2 linked regions of the Homo sapiens genome follow. The protein of the gene in region 1 purifies or fractionates together with the protein of each later gene. This does not show direct contact. Each region holds a gene or a part of one and is shown on either strand. Other genes may lie near its edges.

Region 1 (3,787 bases):
CTATCAAATAAATACATCATACACACATACATACATACATTTTTCTGTAGACATGGAGTTTCACTATATTGCCCAGGTTGGTCTCAAACTCCCAGGCTTAAATGATCCTCCTGCACTGGCCTCCCAAAGTGCTGGGATTACAGACATGAGCCACTGTGCCCGCCCTCCTTCTACTTTCAAACATAAGGGAGGCTGAGTGAGCAAGCCCTGGGCCCCCCATTCCACTTTGCCCAAAGGGATTTAACTTCTAGCTATTTATATATCAAGAGCCTGAATGAGCTTTCATTTTCAGAAAGGGTTCCATCATTAAAGAAAAAAAGGTCTGAAAACAATCAGGCTAAACCCATCTCCATTACTCTCAAGACACGAGCTGCAGAACAGTACGCCCATTGCCTGGCTGTACCAGAGACTCTGAGTCAACTGGGTTTGGTTGGGGTCTGAGCATATTTTAGAAGCTTCCTAGCTGATTCCAAAGCACGATCAAGAGTTAAGAACCAGGCCAGGCACGGTGGCTCACGCCTGTAATCCCAGTACTTTGGGAGGCCAAGGCGGGTGGATCACCTGAGGTCAGGAGTTCGAGAACAGCCTGGACAACATGGTGAAACCCCATCTCTACTAAAAATACAAAAATTAGCCAAGCGTGGTGGCGGGTGCCTGTAATCCCAGGTACTCGGGAGGCTGAGGCAGGACAATCGCTTGAACCCAGGAGACGGAGGTTGCGGTGAGCCGAGATCGCGCCATTGCACTCCAGAATGGGGGACAAGAAGTTCTGTCTCAAAAAAAAAAAAAAAAAGTTAAGAACCGTAGTGCTGGGAGCTGCTTCTTGTGAGCAGCAGCTCAGTCCCATACGGTCAGCAGGCATCGTGATCAGGCATAGGCCTAAAGCGCTATATCCCTCACTAGGTGTGTGACTTTGGCAAGTTACTCAGCTTCTCTGAGCTTCACAATCCTCTTACAAACAGTGGAGATATGTATCTACCCCTTAATAGTATGTTGTGTTAAATGAAATGAGACCAGCAGGCAGGCTATTCTGGACACATTTTCAGAAATCCTTCAGGTCATCCTATTTGATGCTTGCTTCTTCAAGGTTTGGGTCTAAGTCTTGGACCATGGGTAAGTGCTCAGCTTGAAATAAACTAGATTCATCTGGCAGTAAAATGAAGAAGGAAAAAAAGAAACTAAATCCATATTAATTCTAGTCATACTGTTAGCATACATGCTTGTAATAATTGTCACAATCATAGGGTCTGTCATTTTTTGTGCTTACAGTGTGACAGGTGCTGGGCTGGGTACCTTACACTCCTGAGCTCAGTGAATCCTAACCCAATGAGGTAGACACTTATCCCCATTTTCCAGATATGCAACTGAGGCTCAGAGACTATAAGTCCCTTGAGGGCAGGGATCATGTCTATCTCACCCACTACTGTAGCCCCAGCACTTAATGTGGTGTCTGGCAAAATAAACATTTATTGAATAAAAGAATAAACTTGTCCAAGGTCACCTGGCTGGTAGGTGGCAAAGCTGGGACCAAAGAGCAGGACTGTCTGAGCCAAAGCCCTGCTCCTCCTGGCCATGCTCTCTGCTGCCAGGACTATTCAGGTGGGCACGTACCTGCAAAACCTGAGCCACAGTTGGTGATGATGTCCAACAAGGAATCGGGCAGGAAGCCATCAGCAGCAAAGTGCTCCAGGAAAACGTCCCCTTGCCTCTTGGAGAGCTTGCTGCCATCCCTGTTGAGGAGCAGGGGCAGGTGGGCGAAGTGGGGTGGCTGCCAGCCCAGGGCCTGGTAGAGGAGCAGGTGCTTGGCAGTGGAGACGAGCCACTCAGAGCCTCGCAGCACGTGGCTGATGCCCATGTGGTGGTCGTCCACCACGCAGGCCAGGTGGTATGTGGGGAAGCCGTCGCTCTTCATGATGACTGGGTCTCCCTCCACGCTGGCCACTTCATGCCTATTCCAGCCATAGACCAGGTCCTGGAAGGCTGGCACCACCTGCTCCAGGCGGAAGCGGATCGCAGGCTTGGGGTCCTTGGCCAGCTTCTGGGCCACCTGCTCCTGGCTCATGTTCCTGCACCGATTGTCATACCTGATGGGGAGCAGAGCAGCATGAGTACTGTTGATGGAAAGGTTGATGGACAGGAGTCCTACCTCTGTCATAGCTGTGTGACCTTAAGCAAGTCAGTTACTGCTGCAAGCTGCTTCCTCAGTCTATAACAGGGATGATGGTACAGTTGTGTGGAAAACTGAGATAACATGGTGTAGCAGACACTAATGTCTGCCTATCTACCAGCCATTCCACGCTTCTTCCTTGCTAACAAGAAAATAGCAAAATGCTTAGTCCGAGGGGTTGAATCCTGATTGGTATAGCCAATCTTGCAATCCTATTGCTCCATGCCAGTGACCAGTCCAGGCAGGAATGTAACCCCATCCTAGTCACTGGGATGCAAAGAAAAGCATGCCTGGGGAGTAAGAAAGGTTTAAGGTTCCGGGAAAGGTTTTTCTCTCCAAAGGACAAGAAGAGAAAGCCACAGGAGGAAAATCCCTTCTTAAAATTTCCCACTGCCCCACTTCTGTCCTCTTTGGATGTTGTCCTGTAAGGGGAGCATGCTTGGACCTGCGGCAGCTACTTGCAACTGCAGGAGGGAAGGCAATGAAGTCAGAGAGAAGCCAAAATAGAGCCCTGGTGTCTCTACACTGCTAGTCTCATCCTGGAGTCACCCACCTCCAGCCTTGTGCAGAATCAAAAGACAAATGTCTATGATTGATGCCCTGGCTACTGAAAGTGTGGTCTGTGGGCCCCTAGCATCAGCCTCTTGGGAGTCTGCCAGAAATGCAGACTCTTAGGCTCCACCCCAGACCTACTGAGTCAGAATCTGAACATTAACTAGGTCCCCAGGTGATCCATCTGTGAGTTAAAGTATCGTTTGTCCCTTCTAACAGGGTATTCCACTAACTGCACCCAAAAGCGTTCTGAGACACAGATGGAATGCTTGTAAGGTTAGTCTTTGCCACAGCTAAGTGTTCAATCAATCAATAAATGGTGCACAGGGCTGGACACAGTTGCTCACGTCTGTAATCCCAGTGTTTTGGGAGGTCAAGGTAGAAGGACAGCCTGACCTCAAGGGTTCAAGACCAGCGTGGGTAACATAGCAAAATCCTGTCTCTTATTTAAAAATTTAAAATACCAGCCTGGGCAACATAGTGAGACTCTGTCTCTACAAAACAAAACAAAACAAAATCAGCCAGGTGTGGTGGTGCATTCCTGTAGTCCCAGCTCTGTGGGAGGCCAAGGTGGAAGAATCACTGGAGCCCAGGAGGTTGAGGCTGCAGTAAACTATGATGGCACCACTGCACTCTAGCCTGGGTGACACAGCGAGACCCTGTCTCAAAAAAAAAACTTTTTTTTTCTTTTTTTTTTTTTTTTTTGAGATAGAGTCTCGCTGTGTCACCCAGGCTGGAGTGCAGTGTCGTGACCTTGACTCACTGCAACCTCCACCTCCAGGGTTCAAGCAATTCTCCTGCCTCAGCCTCCTGAGTAGCTAGGATTACAGGTGCCTGCCACCACAACCGGCTAATTTTTATATTTTTAGTAGAAATGGGGTTTCACCACGTTGGTCAGGCTGGTCTCGAACTCCTGATCTCGTGATCTACCCGCCTCGGCCTCCCATAGTGCTGGGATTACAGGTGTGAGCCACCGTGCCCGGCCAAAAAAGAAATTTTTACAAATGAGTCAGTTGCACATGAGTGAACAGGAGGGTGTTCAGCTGCAGAAGCAGGGCAGCATTATGT
Region 2 (3,787 bases), on another chromosome or scaffold:
AAAGTGTTAGACAGTTGTTGGCTCTCTCCTAAAAAGTGAATGAGATTTTTCCTATACATTTTCCTTCTTGTTGACTAATATATGATGAATACTTTTTTCAGCTTGGATATACCATAAATATAAAAATAATAAAGCCAAAGAATTTAAGCTAAAATTCAACACTTTTCTTAACTAATTTAACTGGTATGGTCTCCATAGTAGTCCACTGTTTTGTTTCCTGTGTTAACTTCCCTTTTGTTTCAAAAGCTCTTAGAATAAGGAGTCAACTGGATTTTTATGTCCATGGACCCCTTGTGATTATATGCAGTGTACGCTGTGTGTGCGTGTGTGTGTGTGTGTGTGTGAGAGAGATCCTTTTACTTAGAAAAAGGTCTACTATGCTCATTAGAAGATCAAAAGCAGATTCTCCTTACTTGTAACATAGGAGTTTCAGGATTAATCTGTATTCAAGCTCATTCTATATCCTTCATCAAAGAAAAGACAATGTTTTGTGTCTGTTGTCCCTCTCACACACAGCCCTAATATATAATGTGTAACTGCCTTATCTGCAGCCCTAAACTAATATAGCTAGAGGTCTTCTAATCATTCTCCTACCTCTAGGAAAGAAATATAGTCTTGAAAACTGCCAATCTGGTGTGCATACAAAATATATACAAAATACCAAGGAACATTATATGAGCCTTTTGCTAGGTATATCTAAGCAACTGCTTCAGTTAATGGCCACTTTACAAATTGCTGAAAGAAGGAAACGTCTTTCGATTCTTTTTTTTTTCTTTTTTTTTTTTTGAGACAGAGTCTCTGTCTGTTACTCAGGCTGTAGTGCAGTGGCACAATGATAGCTCCCTCCAGCCTCAAACTCCTGGGCTCAAGCATTCCTTCTGCATCAGCCTCCTGACTAGCTGGAACTCAGGCTCATGCCACCAGACCTGGCTAATTTTTCTGTTTTCAGTAGAGAAAATATTTTCTTTCACTAATTTAACTGGTATGGTTTCCATTGTCTACCCAGTTTTCCATATGCATAAGAAAATATATTCACAGGAAAATATAAAGTTTTCAGATTTCATGAGTGGTTTTAAGAAAGTTTTAGTCAGTGAAAAAACTATCATACCAGTCTTCAAAGGAAGGGTGAAATAAGTTCATCTGCTACGTTGCCCAGGCTGGTCTTGAAGGGAAACAGACTTTTTTGTAGTCATACTTATCCTTTGGCTTCTTAGTAAGTATTATATAGTCATTACTTTTTGCAGTTTTTTAGATCAAAGTGTTAATGTAGGTAAAGTTAATTTTAGAATATATGTAAAAGTCAAGTCTGCTTTAAATTTAATCATCTCTTTGGTGAAAGGGATGGGATGGAGCTTTGCTTTTTATCATATATTCATCTGTACCTTTCAAGTATTCAAATAGAAAAATATAAACAATGTAAATAAAATAGCAAAACAATGTAATATCTCATAAAACTGCAATGGTAAAAGCATTTATCCTATTGAAATTCCACAATTTTTATTTGAAAATATTATCGACATGTAATTCAAGTGGCATTTAGAAGAATAATTTAAAAGCAACAACTCTATAGAAAGCTTGTAAAATGATTAAGTAGTTTAAACCAAATAAAACAATTTCTGAGTCAGTCATCTCCAGTAGGTCTATTTTAGTCTCAAGATAAATTCATTTCTGGTGACAACTGAAGTTCTTAGTTATTTGTTAGTATATATTGGAGACATTTACAATAAAGCTTAGAGCACAATGGGAAATGAAAGTATCATGTTTTTTTTAAGACCAAATGTATTGCAGAAATGTGAGTAATTTAATCCGATGCTACAATCTGATCATTCTGATCTAATCTGATCATTTAATAACACTAAATAAAACCTTCATCTCACATTCTTTGGCTGTTTCTTTTAAAATATGGGTTTACGGATAAATCAAATAAATTCAAAACAAAGTAATAAGCAAATGATTTTTTTTTCTCAGTAATCTAGTAGAGTATTACATTTAGAAGTAATCTGTATCTCAGTGCAGTAACTATTTAGGACTGTAAGCGCCGCTGTTCACCTACTGGAAGACAAATGCAACCGAAAACACTCAGATCTCACACCTCACGAAGACCCGCAGATGCCACAAACTAACTGCTGGACTGCAGCGAAACCCGACCCCTGTTTGGAGGCACTCCAGGTTTCCGGAGGATTGTCATCTCCATAGCTGCGGCAAGAAACTAAATAAGACCCATTTATGCACAGTGAAGATTCTGAGAGGATTCTGCAGCAAAACAACAATGGCCGCTCCACAGAGTCGCCCCAGACGCGGCGAGCTGATCCTGCTGTGCGCGCTGCTGGGAACGCTGTGGGAAATCGGGAGGGGACAGATTCGCTACTCTGTGCCAGAAGAGACGGACAAAGGCTCCTTCGTGGGTAATATCTCCAAGGACCTGGGGCTGGACCCCCGGAAGCTGGCGAAGCACGGAGTCCGTATCGTCTCCAGAGGTAGGACGCAGCTCTTTGCTCTGAACCCGCGCAGCGGCAGCTTGATCACCGCGGGCAGGATAGATCGGGAGGAGCTCTGCGCTCAGAGCCCGCGGTGTCTGATAAATATTAACACCCTGGTTGAGGATAAAGGAAAACTCTTTGGGGTAGAAATAGAAATAATTGATATTAACGATAATAACCCAAAATTCCAGGTCGAAGATCTAGAAGTAAAAATTAACGAAATCGCGGTTCCTGGAGCACGTTATCCACTCCCAGAAGCTGTTGACCCGGATGTGGGCGTGAACTCCCTCCAGAGCTACCAGCTCAGCCCCAATCACCACTTCTCCCTGGACGTGCAGACTGGAGACAATGGAGCCATAAACCCAGAGCTGGTGCTGGAGCGCGCCCTGGACAGGGAGGAAGAGGCTGCTCACCACCTGGTCCTCACGGCCTCGGATGGCGGCAAGCCGCCTCGCTCTAGCACAGTGCGCATCCACGTGACAGTGTTGGATACAAATGACAATGCCCCGGTTTTTCCTCACCCGATTTACCGAGTGAAAGTCCTTGAGAACATGCCCCCAGGCACGCGGCTGCTTACTGTAACAGCCAGCGACCCGGATGAGGGAATCAACGGAAAAGTGGCATACAAATTCCGGAAAATTAATGAAAAACAAACTCCGTTATTCCAGCTTAATGAAAATACTGGGGAAATATCAATAGCAAAAAGTCTAGATTATGAAGAATGTTCATTTTATGAAATGGAAATACAAGCCGAAGATGTGGGGGCACTTCTGGGGAGGACCAAATTGCTCATTTCGGTGGAAGATGTAAATGACAATAGACCAGAAGTGATCATTACGTCTTTGTTTAGCCCAGTGTTAGAAAATTCTCTTCCCGGGACAGTAATTGCCTTCTTGAGTGTGCATGACCAAGACTCTGGAAAGAATGGTCAAGTTGTCTGTTACACACGTGATAATTTACCTTTTAAATTAGAAAAGTCAATAGGTAATTATTATAGATTAGTGACAAGGAAATATTTGGACCGAGAAAATGTCTCTATCTACAATATCACAGTGATGGCCTCAGATCTAGGAACACCACCTCTGTCCACTGAAACTCAAATCGCTCTGCACGTGGCAGACATTAACGACAACCCTCCTACTTTCCCTCATGCCTCCTACTCAGCGTATATCCTAGAGAACAACCTGAGAGGAGCCTCCATCTTTTCCTTGACTGCACACGACCCCGACAGCCAGGAGAATGCCCAGGTCACTTACTCTGTGACCGAGGACACGCTGCAGGGGGCGCCCCTGTCCTCGTATATCTCC

What was found. The genes of interacting proteins can lie anywhere in the genome.
Region 2: the proteins of EARS2 (region 1) and PCDHGB4 purify together in Homo sapiens (co-immunoprecipitation; one large-scale study listed by IntAct). This does not show direct contact.

The regions. Positions count from the first base shown.
Region 1 is NC_000016.10:23,533,277-23,537,063, forward strand, and holds part of EARS2 (nondiscriminating glutamyl-tRNA synthetase EARS2, mitochondrial), read right to left. Parts: exon of another isoform or gene 3,728-3,787; intron 2,085-3,727; coding exon 1,612-2,084; intron 1-1,611. UniProt on the Homo sapiens protein: Non-discriminating glutamyl-tRNA synthetase that catalyzes aminoacylation of both mitochondrial tRNA(Glu) and tRNA(Gln) and participates in RNA aminoacylation for mitochondrial protein translation.
Region 2 is NC_000005.10:141,390,545-141,394,331, forward strand, and holds part of PCDHGB4 (protocadherin gamma-B4 isoform 1 precursor), read left to right. Parts: intron 1-2,088; exon of another isoform or gene 2,089-2,269; coding exon of another isoform or gene 2,270-3,787. Other genes in the region: PCDHGA8 (protocadherin gamma-A8 isoform 1 precursor), read left to right, coding at 2,270-3,787. UniProt on the Homo sapiens protein: Potential calcium-dependent cell-adhesion protein. May be involved in the establishment and maintenance of specific neuronal connections in the brain.